Linked DNA regions of Homo sapiens: region 2 is linked to region 1. Evidence: fine-mapped expression QTL. A gene starts in region 1. The other region holds a variant in brackets. All regions are shown on one strand. Distances are between the middles of the regions. Region 1 holds the start of PI3 (peptidase inhibitor 3). Region 2 overlaps LOC105372630 (a long non-coding RNA gene).

Region 1 (8,595 bases):
TGAAAATCCAAACAGTAATTGAGATAGCATCTCACACCAGTCGTTATAACATAACATATGCTGTCAAGGTTGTAGAGAAAAGGGAACATTTATACACTGCTGGTAGGAATGTAAATTAGTTCAGCCAGCATGGAAAGCAGTATGGCAATTTCTCAAAGAACTTAAAACAGAATTACCATTCAACCCAAGATATTCCATTAATGGTTATATACCCAAAGGAATATAAATCATTCTATCATAAAGACACATCCATGTAGTATGTGAATCACAGAACTATTCACAGTATCAAAGACATAGAATCAACCTAATTGCTCATCAATGATAGACTGGATAAAGAAAATGTGGTATGTAAACACCATAGAATACTACGAGTCATAAAAAAGAACAAGATCATGTCCTTTGCAGCAACATGGATGGAGCTGGAGGCCATTATCCTAAGCAAACTTTCACAAGAACAGAAAAGAAAATACCACATTTTCTCACGTATAAATGAAAACTGAACATTGAGTACATATGGACACAAAGAAGGGAACAATGGACACTAGGGCCTACTTGAGGGTAGAGAATGGGAGGAGCGTGAGGATCAAAACACGAATCGAGTACTATGCTGATTACCTGGTGATGAAATACTTCTGCACACGAACCCCCCCATGACATGAAATTTACCTATACAACAAACCTGCACATGTACCCCTGAAACTAAAATAAAAGTTAAAAATAAAACCCCAAAATTAGACACACAGTCTGTTCATGAGGCTTGATGGAAACAGCAGGCAAGTTTATCCACTACTGGTGGGATTACAATATGGTACAACCCCTATCAAGGGAAATATGGCAATATTATCAAAATTTCAAATGCATTTCACCTTTGTATAAGCAAATATACTTCTGGGAATCTGGTTCACAAGAAAGCAAGCTAAGAAAGGCCACATGTGGTATAGTTTGTAATGGCAAAATATTGGAAACAACTTGCGAGGGTAGCAATGTGGGTTTATTGAAAGCTAAGGTAGTCTATAAATGATTCGCTCTGCAGCTTTCTCTCTCTCTCTCTCTCTCCAAGCAATCAAAGAACTAGAACATTACTAATAACCAACAACTTAAATCAACCCGTGTCCTTCTCACCCATCCAGAATGTTTTCTTCTCTCGTTTCCAGAGTTAGCCACTATCTTGTATGTCATTTTTATAGTTTTTTCATTTTTTATGTATCCCTTTTTGAGCTTTGCTTCATATGTAAATATGCCTAGGCAATATATTTCCCAGTTCTCCTTCATTTGAGTTTTATGACAAGTGGGTAATTCTAAATATTGTCACTGTGGACTTGTGTTGTTTATTCAACATTATTTTAATTATGGTCATATTGTGCATGGCTGTAATTCAGTTATTTTCATAATTGTATAATACTTCCTTGCATTAATATGTCATGACATATTTATGCATTAATATGTCATGACATATTTATCCAGTATTTTAGTATTGGTAACATGGACTGTTTCCAGTATGTTATTGTTAAAAACAGTACTTTTATGAACATTATTGTGCATGTTTCTTGGTAAACATGTGGAAATATTTTCCTTAATTAAATCTTTAGGAGTGCAATTGCTGAATTATAGATTGTGTACACATTCAATTTTACTAGCTGATGTCAAACTGTTTTTAAATGTTTCACCAATATAGACTCTCATTAGTAATGCATAAAAGTTTCTTTTCTACTACAAATCAATAAGAAAAGATAAACAACCCATTCAAATCTAAAATAAAAGTTGAAATTAAATAAATAAGTAAATAAAAGGTAAGATACTTGAATTGGCACTTCACAAAAGAGGATAGCCAAATGGATAATAGAAATATTAAAAATGGGCCGGGTGCAGTGGCTCATGTCTGTAATCCTAGCACTTTGGGAGGCCAAGGCAGGTGCATCATCTGAGGTCAGCGGTTCGAGACAAGCCTGACCAACATGGTGAAACTGCAAAATATAAAAATTAGCTGGGCATGGTGGCATGTGCCTGTAATCCCAGCTACTTGGGAGGCTGAGGCAAGAGAATCACTTGAACCTGGGAGGTGGAGGTTGCAGTGAGCTGAGATTGTGCCATTGAACTCCAGCCTGGGTGACAAGAGCGAAATTCCATCTCAAAAAAAAAAAAAAAAAAAAAAGGAGTATTAAAAATGGGTCAGCTTCACCAGTTATTAGGAAAGTGTAAATTCAAATCACAGGAAATCCCACAAGATGTCCACCTGAATGGCTAATGAAAAGGCAAATCATATGAGGCATTGGTGAGATTATGGAGCAAATGGAATGCTCACACATTGCTGATAGCAGTGTGAATTGGTACAATGATGTTGGAAAATTGATTGCAGTATTTATGACAGCTGGATGTATCTATACTCTGTGATCTGTACTCTGTGATCCAGCAATTCCATTCCTAACCATATATCCAAAATAAATGCATACCTATGTTCTGCAAGAGATATGTACAAGAATATTCATAGCAACACTATAATAGCTAAAACCTAGAAATATCCAATGTATATTGACAGTAGAATGAATATATAACATTTTTGGTATTTTTCATAGAATACTGTACAGCAGTGAAAATGATGAACTACAGGTGTAGACTTCAAAATGGATGACTCTCAAAAATATAATGTTGAGCAACATAAGCAGGACATATGAACACTATACCTTAGATTTCATTTACATACAAATTGAAAAAGTATACTAAACTGAATATATATTTCAGAATACAGACAGAAGTGGCATAACTATAAAGGAAAGCAAGGGCTAATTACCATAAAATCTTAGGAAGCAGTTATCTCTGGGGAGGAAGGAGAATGAAGCAACTGAGGAGAGGCATGGAGCATAGATATAGCAAATATTCTCCTCCTTTACCTGGCAGCTCATTTTAATGCTATTCTTTAAAGAATATAGGTATTTTCTGTGAGCTTTTTATTTGTTTGTATGGCTTATTGTACAATGAGCTTTTGTGTAAGGTAGCCAAAGGCTTCCACAGTCTGACATTCGTTTATGTCTCCCTCAGTTTCAGGCTTGGTGGGCATGTGGTCAGAGTCTAAATCGACAAGGGGTGGGGATTTCACCAGCTGAATTAGTGTCCAATAATTAGTTTGTTACCTTCCCTGCCTTAACTCCACCTCAACTCAGTGACTTTCTTAACTCAGATTCTGTCCCTGACAATACCCAACTTCAGGATATTCATTTCTATTACTCAGAACTTTTGGTAACAATGACAGAATAGTAAGTCAGACTAGCTGAAGCAGAGGGCTAATTTATTGCCTCATAACCCAACCATGAGAAGGGTGTGTGAAGAACTGCTCTCAAGGTAAAGGAGGGAAACCTGGCTGTGTCATCTGAATCTTCTCTCACCATCACTTCTCTCCTTGTCTCAGTGTATTAGAGTCGTTTTTCTCAGACAATTGATCTCCACCCCCAGACTTAGATAACCACTTCTGGAATTCCCTGGTTCATATATATCACCTTTTCCAGAAGAAGGAACCCCCGTTTTCCCCTTTCATTACTCATTCAAATAAAATATGTTAATAGACCAGACCAAGTCTCACACACAACACACACACACACACTCACACACACACACACACACACACACCCCTACCTGTGGTCAGGGGTCAGGCTTTCATGATTAGCAGTCCCCATTAGACTCACAAGTTGATGGTTCAAAGAGACAACAATTCTTCACAAGAAACAGGGTGCTGTTCAAAGAAGTGGGGAGGCATGCTGGACACACACACTGTAGATGTCCAATGTATACATGATACATGTTTTCTACTACTTTCTGATTATTTTCTCCCTACCACTGTGATTTCAAGGGCATCATCCCTCTTCAGACCTAGAATTCCACCTTCCAATTACTTTCTTGATGCATCTGAAAGGCCGTCTCTGAAACAGCAAAGTGCAATAATTAGTCATTATGTATTCAAGGCAAATTTGTCTTACAGAGTTTTTTGCAGGACCAGGGAAGAAGGAAGGAAATGCCCAGTTTGATGCTGGGAGTGGTAAAATGATAAAGTAGATCTGGGTGGGGTTTGTAGCACCAGAGCATAATGGAGAAACACCTTGGTTTTGTAATCAAGACTGGATCTACCAGTGACTTGCTGAATAACCTTCGGTGATTCCTTTCTCTTCTTGGGTCTCACTGTATTTCAAAACATGAAGAATTTCATTGTAATGTTACCTAATAAGTGAGCCAGCACTTCTACTCTGTGAGAAAGTAGGAAAACTCTTGGGACAATCAGAGATGATGTGATGTAATGTCCATTAGTTCTTCCTGTGAATAATCCTGAGGGAAAGCCCCCAGGTCCCTCCCAGAATGGGGTGGATATTTCCCAATACAGCTAAGGAATTATCCCTTGTAAATACCACAGACCCGCCCCTGGAGCCAGGCCAAGCTGGACTGCATAAAGATTGGTATGGCCTTAGCTCTTAGCCAAACACCTTCCTGACACCATGAGGGCCAGCAGCTTCTTGATCGTGGTGGTGTTCCTCATCGCTGGGACGCTGGTTCTAGAGGCAGCTGTCACGGGAGGTGAGTGAACAGGTGACCTGCTGGGCTGGGTTGGACTAAGGGGAGACCCTCTGGGACACCCTGGGCCAGGACAGGGAGCACTTCTGAAGCAGTAGGCAGCACTGGAGCCCAGATTTCAGCTTTCTGTTCTTTGCCATCATATTCAGAAAAAATAGGACTTTGGCTGGTGGACTCCACGTGCTTTCCACCTCAGTGACTGAGATATCAGGACTGTTTGTGGAAGTAATGTTGGTATGTGGCCTTGGCCTCAGATGTCAATACCTGTGCAGAATGTGCAATAAAATAATGAACTCCAGGATTTTAAACCTTGGGTGTGGACACAGTCCCCCGTTTCTCTGCCCCATAAAAGCACTGGAGTAATCAGTACTCTAAAAGGAGGTTAAGAAACAACAAGCCTTCAGGAATCATGTTGTTTGAGGACCCCCATTTTATAAGGAGGGAACCAAAAATGTAGAAATGAGTGAGCAATTGCCAAGGTAATTCCCAGAGCCAGGATGGGGCTCAAGTCTCCTAGTATGTGGCTCAGGGTTCTTTCCTACTCCAATGCACTTCCTAACAAATGACAATGTGTCCTCTTCACTGCTGGGTGTCACCCCAGTCTGACCACTGCTCCTGAGAGACTTGGAGTGGAGGAAGGGGGAAGAAACAAATACTCAAGGGAACTCTGGTCCAGTAGACCACCCCAAAAAAGGAAGAGCCTTCCAAGAGTGTAGCTCCCAGAGGTGTACCTTCCCTACTCAGGCCATGGTTTGAGGATGCTGCAGTAAGCAGTGGATGGACCCAGACCCAGAGGAAAGACATGGCAGCTGAAGCAGAGGCTTACTGGGTATAAATGTGGGCTCGTTTCTTCTTTTAACAGTTCCTGTTAAAGGTCAAGACACTGTCAAAGGCCGTGTTCCATTCAATGGACAAGATCCCGTTAAAGGACAAGTTTCAGTTAAAGGTCAAGATAAAGTCAAAGCGCAAGAGCCAGTCAAAGGTCCAGTCTCCACTAAGCCTGGCTCCTGCCCCATTATCTTGATCCGGTGCGCCATGTTGAATCCCCCTAACCGCTGCTTGAAAGATACTGACTGCCCAGGAATCAAGAAGTGCTGTGAAGGCTCTTGCGGGATGGCCTGTTTCGTTCCCCAGTGAGGTGAGCACTAGCTGGAGAACGAGGAGACCCCTGAAGACACAAAAGAAGGCTGAGCGGTGGGGAAGCATCCCAGGTTGGTGGGAGGGAGGTTGTGGGAGGTGACAGAAAGACTGGGAGACTGAGGGGTCTGAGAGGCTATAACCAGAGTGCCTAGAAGGATGATCTGTCTTCCTCACTGCCTCTGAGTGCTTTGATGTGCTGACTCTCACCTCTGATACTCTTCTCTTCCACAGAGGGAGCCGGTCCTTGCTGCACCTGTGCCGTCCCCAGAGCTACAGGCCCCATCTGGTCCTAAGTCCCTGCTGCCCTTCCCCTTCCCACACTGTCCATTCTTCCTCCCATTCAGGATGCCCACGGCTGGAGCTGCCTCTCTCATCCACTTTCCAATAAAGAGTTCCTTCTGCTCCACTTGTTTCTGGTTCCTATGACTTCTGGGCTCCTGGATGCTTTGGGGAAATGGATGTAGAATTGGGACTTCTTCTCTCCAGTGAAGAGGGGAAACGGTCCCATGGTGAAAGAGAGCAGGGCGGGGGGAGGAAACAGGAGGCACATTGCTAGGGCTTCATATTACAAATCCAATAATCAGCCCCAGTGCTGCCAGCTCCTTTTCACCAGGAAATGGAAATATGGAAATCTTGCCTTTGGCCAAGGACCAGGAAAAACACAAAACACAAAAAATAAATAAACATTACATAAACCATAAGCAGGTCTTTTTTTTCCAATCCACCATCAGTCCTGACCTGGCTACTGTCGGCCTTACCAGTGTGACCAGCCAACCCTTATGGCTGCAACTACAGCTCCCCACTTCCTTCTCATTAATGTTTCCCAGGAATCTATATCTTTTCAACACCACATAGAAAGGATGATGTTACAGATGCTGCGAAACTCCTGCTCTTTAGAATTTCACTGGTTTATGCCTGAGATTCCTCCATGAAGTAGCATTCCTTTAGGTTAAGCAATATTCTCTTCCAGATTTCTGTTTTAAGATGTGAATGAGGAGGCAAGATACACTAAGTCCTTCATACTATGGTGTCAGAGGTTTGGGTGAATAGCATTCTCTGGAGACATACATGTTGGGGGCAGGGCAGACTTGAGTAGTGGAGAAAGGGGCAGGAATATGAGCAACCTCATGGCTCTCCTGTTGACCCACTCGTCCCACTGCGATTGCACAAGGAAACTCTCAGAGAAGGCCACAGCCCCCAGGAGGGGAGCAGCCTGGGTGAAGGGGAATAAGCACAGGCTTGACAGTCAGGTGATCTCAGCACTGGCTTTGCCTCCCCACGTATTGGGTGACCTCTGGCAAATGTATGTCCCCCTTCCAGGCCTCAGAGGTCTATTTCAGTTGAGGGGGTAAGGTATAATTATTCTGCAAAGGAAGGTCTAATCCTGCCACTCTGGGATATGAAACAGCTCTTCTTTGTGTATTGGGTTCTTGCTCTGAGATGACATGGGGAGCAGAGGCTTGGGGTGAGACAATGTGGATCCCTGCACCACTTTGCCCCATCCACGAGCATCTGAGCCATGATTTTTCCCTATTGTTCAGAGGCTAGTCCGAACAACTGTAGGGCTTTGACACTAGGGTGTCTTGGAGTACAGGTGACAGCAGTACCCAAACTTCTGGCTTGACAAATACAAAATACATCATTGGAGGAAATAATGGTTTCTGTTTTTTAATATTTACTCTATTTCCTATACCTAGTAGATTACATGTATTGTCACTTATTTTTCATAAGTCCCTTTCAGATGGCCATTATACATATTTTATTTTCTAATTTTGTAAAAAGATTGAAGCTAAGAGAGATTAAGTAACCATTAAAAGCCACAAGGTTAGTAAGTGATAGTAAATGATATTTTTATTATATGCTAGCAACAATCAGTTAGACATGCTGCATTTTCTATTATTAATATCAACAAAATCACACCATTGCTATAAATAAACAAGAGAGAGGCAGAGCTTTAGAAGAGAAATCTATGTAACTTTTCAGAGGCATATAAAAATGCTTGAATATACACATACTCACAATACATGAATATGCACATATCACAATACATGAAGACTATGTGGTGAAGATGTCACTATTTACTCAATATTTAATATTTATTTAATTTATCCCTAAGGTGTATTATACCCAAAATCCATTTTTAATATGGTGTGGTTATGGAGGTTAAGGGAACTTGAAACCATACTTAAGTTTATGGGGAAGCATAAATTCTTGTGAATAGGCGTAGATGTTTACAAATGAAGATTAACCCTAGGGCTCTGGAACCTCCTAGACTTAAAAAAAAGTTTTGCAAAGTAACAATAATCAATATGTTGTTTTTATTAGAAGAATAGTCAGGTTGAGAAATCAATAGAAAACAAAAGAAAACCCAGAATCAGGCCTCATTATATCTAATTCAGGTAAAGATCAATGTCAAGTTCCAAAACAATGAAGAAAACTTGAATTTTTTAAGAAACAAGATTCAGACGGTAGGTTCACTATTTGCAAAAACAAAAGAACTAACTCTGGTCTGAATTCAGGCAAAGATTAAGCCACTGAGAGAGAAAAATTGAAAGGTTCCAAAAAGACACTTTCTTTTCGCTCAGGAAGCAGGCCAGGATGACAGTCCATGCCTAGCAAGGTAGCTGAGCAACTCAAGATCTCACAGAGACCAGTGGTTTCTTCCATCCAGGATTTGCTGTGGAACAGAGACTGTAATTCCTTTCATGTTCAGTCAGGCAGGGACACATCTCCCAAGAAGACCCTGCCATTTGGAATAGTCCTCTGACTGCAGTAGGAGAGGGTGGAGCTGATACTGGGCCCCTCAGGATCTGCTGTGGCACAGTGGCTGGAGATCCCGATCTCATTGGCTTAGAAGGAGTGCACATCTTCCAGCAAGTTCCTGCGGAGACGTAATAGTTT
Region 2 (8,595 bases), 90 kb after region 1:
TGGAAATATGAACTGTCCTTTTAGGCCCACAAGTGAATGGGTGAAGGGCAGTAAAGCAGAATCTGGGCAAGGGTGAAAAACATCCACCATCAAAGAATTGGCAGGAGAAATTAACCAACAACGGTGGATCTCAGGTGTCTTCATACTTATTACCATGCAAGAGATGGTTGGTGTACAGATCAGGGCTCTGCACTTTATTCCTTCAAAAACTGCATGTCTGTCTCCCTAGAGGAAGGGATCCAGTTAACCTAAGGTTAAAGAAACAAAGTCTGTGGTATGTCATGAGGAAATGCTTTAGGGACCTGGTAAAACAAAAAGAAAAACAGTGCTCGGCATTAAGAAACTGCCATCATGACTACCCATGGAAGAAAACCGGGAATAGAAAAACTGGATTATTAAACTGTGGAACAGAGCTATAAGCAGCTTGGGAAAAGATGTCCCCAAATCACTAGAATCCATCTCCTTTGGTTTAGCATGTTTTGTTACATTTAAGCGTCACACAAAACTTGGTAGATACTAATGTCAAGTCAGTTTACAGATGAGAAAAAGTGAGTCTCAGAGAAACGTTCCTGTTGCAGATCAGGAGATGGTAGGGTCTTAGATGGACATGGCAGACGATGCCTGGTTGATCATTACTATGGGAGAGTTTGGTGTCTAAGCCTGGGGTCAGTGGAGAGCACCACTATGAGGACACCTCTGTGGCCCAAACAGAGCAGAGTGCCAGAAAGACCATGAAAGACTCACACTTGATAGCATCACTTCTGGCCTCTGGGACCCTGTGGTCAGCTAGAGAGGCATGACGATGATACTGGACTCAGGACACTGGGCTGGAATCCCAGCTCTGTCCAATTTGATGTAGAACCTTCCTTTCTCTGGGCCTCAGTTTCCCTATTTGTAAGATCAGTGCATTGGAACAGATGCTCTTTAGAGGCCCCAAGTCTTAGATTCTAGCTGGGTTTTTGCCTTATAGAGGACTCTCAGGACCCAGAGAGCCAACTTTCCTGAATAAAAAGCCTAGGAATAGACACCATGCATGACCCCGAACTTCACAGTGGACCAAGCACTTTTATATCCCATTTTAAAGAAAAGGAAATGGAACCTCAGAGAGTAAGCCCACTTGCCCAAGATGACACAGCAAGTCAGAGGTACAGTAAGATTCAAACCCAAGTCTTCAGAATTCAGCCACATACTGCTTCATTATGGTCCCTCCAAGACTTCTTTAGTCCTAAACCCAGAGTTGGAGATGCCTGGGATAGTAGCACTGTCCAGATAATCCTTCGGCGGAAAGTTAAAAAATGATCTTAAAGATGCAAGAAGTGAGAGTGCTGAATAAACCAAGGAGAATAGGTGCTATTTTCAGGTGCAATTTGAGCAAGGGCTCAAACTATAGCTCCCACAAGATTCTCTCCACGGCACTTCTCTTCATGTTGGCTTCATTCTTAGTCAGGCTCCCTCTTAGCATTTATAATATGGCTGTGGCATCTCCTCCCATCTTCCCAAATTCATGTCTAGTAAGGGCTTTTTCTGGGCAACTCAACTAACTAGGAGTGGCTAGAATTAAATCTTTAAACCAATGATTGGGACCAGGGAACTGGGATGTACCGATTGGTTTAAGCCAAGGCCACAATACTCATCACCATGTGTACTCATCCCCAAATCCAGTGGAATTTTCAGAGTGGGAGAGGGAATGATTCTCCTGGGGTAAATTAGGATATAGCTACCAGCAGAAGGGTGAAAGGATGCTCAGTGGTAAAAATAGCAGTGAGTGTTCTCTAAAGTATACCCCTTTTGGTTACTGAAATCTACATAACTAAATTTTTTCAAATACTTTCTAAACCAACATCTACATAAAATGCACTCAACCTCTCTCCCAAAGAAAGACAACAAAATGTCTCTCTGGGTACTATATTCATCTCCAGTTCTGCAATGTGGGTGAAAGCAGTTCTGTCAGTTAAATTTATAGTCTTCACAGATTAAGTTTAATAAGCTTAAGTAAATTTAACCACTTCAAATGCACCCAATATAGAATGGTAGATTGAGGGCGGAATGACTGCAATAAAAAGTCCTATTTGCAAAAGGGAAATATAGGAAGATATATACAAATTGTCACTGGCCCGTAATACGGATTGTACATCCTGTAAGACAGGGATGTGAGGACTTCCTACCTAATGTTGGAGTGATTTCCTTACTCAATAAATCTGAAGAATCCAGTTCTGCTGTCTGGGAGCCTCTCCTTTGCCTGTCACCTTCCATGGCTACATCTTGGAGGAGTATTGCAGAGGATGCCCTTTTGTTGGGGAAGGAAGGGCATCTGCACCTTTTCAAGAATTCACTTTATATAGGTGCAGCAGGATGTGGGGATCGACATGAACAATCAGTGGCCATTATGAGGCTTGGTTTTCATGTTTAGTTGGCTCCTGGTCCATTTGCTTCATATAAAAGCATGAACTAGTAACTATTGTCAGAAATCTCGCCGAGTCATGTTTGCCTTTTATTTATTCTGCTTTACTCCAAATATGCACTTTTAGTCTGAAGATGCATGTCTTAATTTAATCCTAAAAGAAAAAGTCCTTTCTTTATCTCTTTGAATATTACTTCTGTGCCATTCTCTCCAGTCTCTTTCTGGAACTTCCACCGGATATTTACTAGACCTTCTATTTTTATTATCGTTGTTTTGCCTTTCTCTTATATTTTTCTCTTCATCTCTCTGTGCTGGGCTCTGGGTGAATTTCTCAGTACTGGCTAAAAATTCACCAAGTTTTCTTTCAGCTGCATCCAGTCTAAACTCTACTTTATCCAATGTTTTTCCAACTTTTATTTTAGGTTCAAGGGTACATGTGCAGCTTGTTAACATGGGTAAATTGCATGTTAATATTTGATGTACAGATAACTTTGTCACCCAGGTAATACCCAATAGGTACTCTTTCAGTCCTAACCCTCCTCGAACCCTTCACTCTCAAGTAAGCCCCAATGCCTATTGTTCTCTTCTTTGTGTCCACGTGTATTCAGTGTTTAGCTCACACTTATAAGTGAGATGATGTGATACTCTGTTTTTGGTTTTTCTGTTGCTGCTTTAATTCACTTAGGATAATGGCCTCCGGCTCCATCCATGTTGCTACAAAGGACATTATTTCATTCTTTCTTATGCCTGCATAGTATTCCATGGTGTTTATGTATCACAGTTTCTTTATCCAGTCCACCATTGATGGGCATCTAGATTAATTCCATGTCTTTGCTATTTTGAATACTGCTGCAATGAATATATGCACGCATGTGTCTTCATGGTAGAACAATTTCTATTCGTTTGGGTATATATCCAGTAATGAGATTGCTGGGTCGAATGCTAGTTCTATCTAGTAAGTAATGAATTTTTATTTCAATAATCATTTATTTCCAGTATTTCTACTTGGTTTTTTTTATATGTTCATCTGGTAAATCTAAATAATGTACAGTTGTCTGCCACTTTTTTACCAAATTAGGCAGGACAACCCTTAGGCCAATTGTTAGGTATCTGCATTCTCTGAAAATTCAGCCTCATTGCTTGTTTTAAAAGACATAGAAAGAGACTTAGCATCAATAAACAATAAGCAC[C/T]TAACCATAGCTCTCTTGTTTGATGTTGTTTTTCCTCCCATGAACATAAATCAAATTATCAATCAGCAATGCCTCTATGTGCATTTATGTTTAAGGTCTTCCTCAATTAGACAGCTAACCAAGGTCATCCCCTACAAAATAAGACATACAAGTTATAAATTGGTGCATGCTGGAAAGGAATTAGCATGATTTGCAAACCTAGAGTGTGCCTTAAGATTTTCCCATAGAAAATGGAGGCAATTATATCTCTATTCTGGTGTCTGTAATCCTAGCACTTTGGGAGGCCAAGGTGGGAGGATCGTTTGAGCCCAGTATTTCAAGACCAGCCTGGGCAAAATAGCGAGACCCCATCTCTAAAGAAAAATAAAAGAAAAAAATAAAAATTTAAAAGAAAAAAAATCACTTGTGGAGACAGGGCAAGGAGAAGCTGAGAAAGGAATAAAAACATGGGAGGGGCAGCATGTCCAGTCATCCCTGTTGGTCTAAGAGCAGCAATGCACTTCAAGGGAGAGGCTGGGTGTCCACCTCCTTCTTTTACCAGAAGGCTTGAATTCCCTTGGCTCGAATTTTGCCATTTGTGCAGGTTGGATTCTTCTTAGCAATTCTGGAGAGACTGAGAAAGGTGGTTGCCCTCAGAAAAAAACAGTACAAAGAAGAGTTAGAGAACTCATGGATGGGGAGAGCTGGGATCTGGGGCAACAGCAGCAAATGTCTGAACCAGAAGTAGAAGCCAAGAAAATTCAGTGGTGGCAGGAGCATTCGAAACCTCCCCTCCCAAGAAATGATTTGTGACAGTGTCGGATTGAAGACCAAGATGTTTCTCACATTTTTCCCCCACGGGCTGGCATATCTCCCCAAAGGGAGACATCCATTTACTCAAGGACCAACAAAAAAGAAGCCATGACTTGTCACTAAGGAAGTTGTGGGCCTTGATAAGACATATTAAAAAAAGAACATGGCCTCTGTGGCGGTTGAACATGTGTTTGCTTTGTAATTGTTCATTAAATCTTACTCTTATTTTATGTGCTTTTCCTAATGCATGTTTTGTTTTACAATTTTAAAGTGTTGGGAGAAAGAATGAGTATTGGAAATTAGGCAATTGTCAGCAATGCTGGAACCTACAGGGGAGGCCAAGAGGAGAAAGAAAAATGACCTATCAAACTCTAGAACAAGGAGGATGCAGACCCCCAATTCCACAGCCTGGACTAACATCTCCCAAATTATCCTATATCCTTTCGCTTGATCTCAGTGACATTCATTAAAAGATCACAGACTTTGGAATCAGACTGACCAGCTTTTAAATCCTGTCTTTCCCACTTAATAAATATGTTCCCTTTGATAATTCTGATACTTGTGGCTAATAATTACTGAGCATCTTTTTTATGCTGGACACTGTGCTAAAGGCTTTGCATGCTTTTTCACATTTAAACCTATAACAATGAATAAAGCAGGTAGTACAGTATCCAATTTTACAAACAGGAAAAATAAGGCTCAGAGTCGGCCTCCTATACAAGGTGACAGGAGGAAGGAATGCTTTGGGTGAATTTGATAGGGGCTGTCTAAGGAATAATGCTTCTTACCCAGGCCTGAAGAGCAGCCATGATTCCCTGTGCCCAAAGCTGGGGTAAGGAGAGAGAACCACTGAGGGTCAACTCTTCAGTTCATGCAACTGATGTGCCTGCTGTACAGATGGTGCGTGAGCTCCAGATAGAAGCATCAGTTAGCATAAACTGTCTCTGGTGTCATCTTGATTAAAAATAGGACAATCTCCAATTTTATAAACACATTTTTAAAGTTGTATTTTCCACATTTAAGTCGTTAATCCATCTGGAATTTATTTTTGTGAAAGGTTTAAGTAGAGACTTTGTTTGATTTTTTTTCCAATATGGAATGCCAATTGTTCCCTATATCATTGATCCCCCTTTTGATCATAAAACTGTATTAATTTTGTACCAGTTTTCATATGTGGATGGATGCACTCTACTAGGTTTTCTTACTCAATTTGTTCACTCCCAGACCAATACCATACTCCTTTAATTTGCATCTATATTTTTTATAACCTGGTGCTTCGCAGTAGAAGTCTTTTCTGTTTTGCTTGTTTAGAATTGTTTTGGCTATCCCTGTGCTTTTACTCTACCATGTAAACTTTAGGGTCAATTTGACAAGGTCCTTAAAAACTCTGTTGAATTTTTATTATGATTGCATCCATGCTATAAATTACCTGGAAGAGCCAAAATATTTACCATAGTAAGTCTTCCCAAGTATAAAAAAATAAGTCTCACTCTATTTATTCAAGGCCTCTTCAAGTCTTTTAATAAAATTTTATTTTCATCATATAATTTTTCCAGGTAATCATAAATTTTATGGCTGTTGTGAATAGTTTACCCATTGATTCTCTTGGATTTCATCCTGAGACAATCATATCATTTGTAAACACTCACAATTTTATCTCTCCCTTTCCAATCCTTATACCTCTTTATTTTTATGTCCAATTTTATTGCATTGGCCTAAGATCACTAATATGAGATTGACTGAAAATGGAGATGGGAGAAATTCTGCCCTTGTACCTGTCTTTAAGGATGCCATTTCTAAAGTGTCATCACTGAGTATATTTGCTGCGACTGTTGGTAAATACCTTTTACCAGATTAGTTATGTTCACTTTTGTTCCTGGTCTAGGGTGTTTCTATTTTTATTACACATGAATGTAGAATACAATATAGAATGATTTTTATGAAACTATTTAGAGACTCATTTGGGTCATCTTTAAACTTTTAATTTGCTTAATCCCCTTGATAGATTTTCTGTTCTTGAACTATCTTTGCATATCTGTTTATTTATTTATTTATTATATTTATTATAGGGATACCCTACTATTATAATAAATGTCCTAGCATGTATTATACTTGTCACTTTGAAATATTTCAAATGTATGGAAAAAAATGGGAAGAACAGTACAAAGAACTACCATATTCCCTTCACCCAGATTCACTAAATATTAACATTTTGCCACATTTGTTTTATCATTCTTTCTCTTTTGTGTGTGTGAGAGAATAGAATGTTTTATTCCAACCATTGAGAATAAGTTGTATACATTATGCTCCTCTGTCCATGAATACTTCAGTGTGTATTCGCTATGAATAAGGACACCTTTATATAACCACAGTACAGTTATCAACTTCAAAAAATTCAACACTGACAAAAAATCCCAACATTTTGGATTTTCCCATGTATTCTCATAAGAAAAAAGAGTCTAGTTTCTTAAACTCTGATTATGATATAAACACACAATATCAAAGATAAGCACCACAAAAGTTTCCATCCGTGCTTTCCCTTCTTTTAGTCTCTGAAATCATTTGGGATAGAAATTGTCTTTCTTGTAGGTTTGGTAAAAAATGAATACATTTCATATTATTTCCCATTTTAAAAGAAGAGATTTAATTACCAAGTGAAAACCTCTTAACTTGTTTTCTTTTATAAAAGGAGAAATTTAATTACCATTTTAAATTCTTTAATGATTAGAGGTTTGTTCAGGTTTCAAATTTCTTCCTGGAACCAGAAAGGACAAAGAGAGGAGAGGAAACTGGTCATGCCTGGTAACCACTGAAGCAATTCATTTCAGACCTGTGTTACAACTCCTGATAAATGAAATCAAAGAGGATCACACTCATGTGTGTGTGATTTCTGAATAGTGCCCCAAAGAAAGTGCTAAACCTGACCAACAACAGCAACATTCTCAATAGGAGGTGGAGTGAGGATTGGTGCCACAAGGAACCTGGAGCTGATCCTAAAGGAAAATAAATATCTACTAGTTGTTGACCGATGTCACTGTGCACTTCTCTCACAAACAATGCCTTTATTCCTCACCACCATACAAAAAAGGAATTAATATTAACCCCATACATACATGGTAAAATTGACGCTCAGAAGGATGAATTCCCGAGCAATTTGGACATAACTCACACAATTATGATTTAAGATATGATCTGTCTCACTCAAAATCCACTATTCTTTCCACTCCACATGCTGAGAGCAAGGCCACAAATCCCACCACCTCTCTCACTTCTCTCCTTTCCTCCCATCATCCCCCATGTCCTAGACCATGGGCCAGGTACAGTGGCTCATGCCTGTAATCCCAATGCTTTGGGAGACCGAGGCGGGAGAATCACTTGAGGCTAGGAGTAACATAGGCTGGTCTTGAACCAGCCTATGAGACCTCATCTCAAAAAGAAAAAAAGAAAAAGAAAGAAAGGATGGAAGGAAAGAAGGAAGGAAGGGAGGGAGGGAGGGAAAGAAAGAAAGAGAAAAAAGAAAGAAAGAAAGAAAGAGAAAAAGAAAGAAAGAGAAAGAAAGAAAGAAAGAAAGAAAGAAAGAAAGAAAGAAAGAAAGAAAGAAAGAAAGAGAGAAAGAAAGAAAGAAAGAAAGAGAGAAAGAAAGGGAAAGGAAAGGAAAGGAAAGGAAAGGAAAGGAAAGGAAAGGAAAGGAAAGGAAAGGAAAGGAAAGGAAAGGAAAGGAAAGTCAGGTGTGATTATATGCACCTGTAGTCCTAGCTACTTGAGAGGCTGAGGCAGGAGACCCCCTTCAACCGAGGAGTTCAAGGTTACAGGGAGCTATGACTGCACCATTGCACTTCAGCATGGGCAACAGAGTAAGACTCTGTCTCTTAAAAGTAAACAGATAAATAAATAAATATATTGAGTCTAACAGGGTGGGAAAACACTTAGATAATCTCTAGAGAGACTCTGACTATACTAGTCTAGGCTTGACTCGTCAGCCATCTCATGCCCATTCCCAACCCACCCAGAGATCCCGCAAACCTGGGAGATCCTAACAAACCATTTTTTAAATGAAGAGAAGAGACTATGGCAGAATCTACAGACTGATGCAATCCACATCCATTTCAACCATTTTTTATGTATCTCTCTATAGTGCAGAGGCTACAATGTTAAAAGCTACATTCTCCAGACCCCCTGAAGGTAGGGTCGGCTGTCATTTATGTTTCACCA

The links. PIP is the estimated chance that this variant, and not a neighbour inherited with it, causes the effect. A credible set is the group of variants that fine-mapping cannot tell apart.
Region 2: its variant is the best candidate, but not a certain one, in a credible set for the expression of PI3 in whole blood (TOPMed, PIP 0.54).

Annotation. Positions count from the first base shown.
Region 1 is chr20:45,170,445-45,179,039 of GRCh38, forward strand. PI3 (peptidase inhibitor 3) reads left to right here and starts at 4,458. Exons shown (of 3, transcript NM_002638.4): 1 at 4,458-4,557; 2 at 5,417-5,692; 3 at 5,926-6,100. The coding sequence starts at 4,479. The coding sequence ends at 5,691. RefSeq lists an enhancer at 4,048-5,247.
Region 2 is chr20:45,259,998-45,268,592 of GRCh38, forward strand. The region is part of intron 2 of LOC105372630 (a long non-coding RNA gene); the gene reads left to right. Among named protein-coding and RNA genes, the nearest start is that of SLPI, 9.7 kb to the left of the region's middle. The variant C/T (reference allele first, on the strand shown) is at 3,592.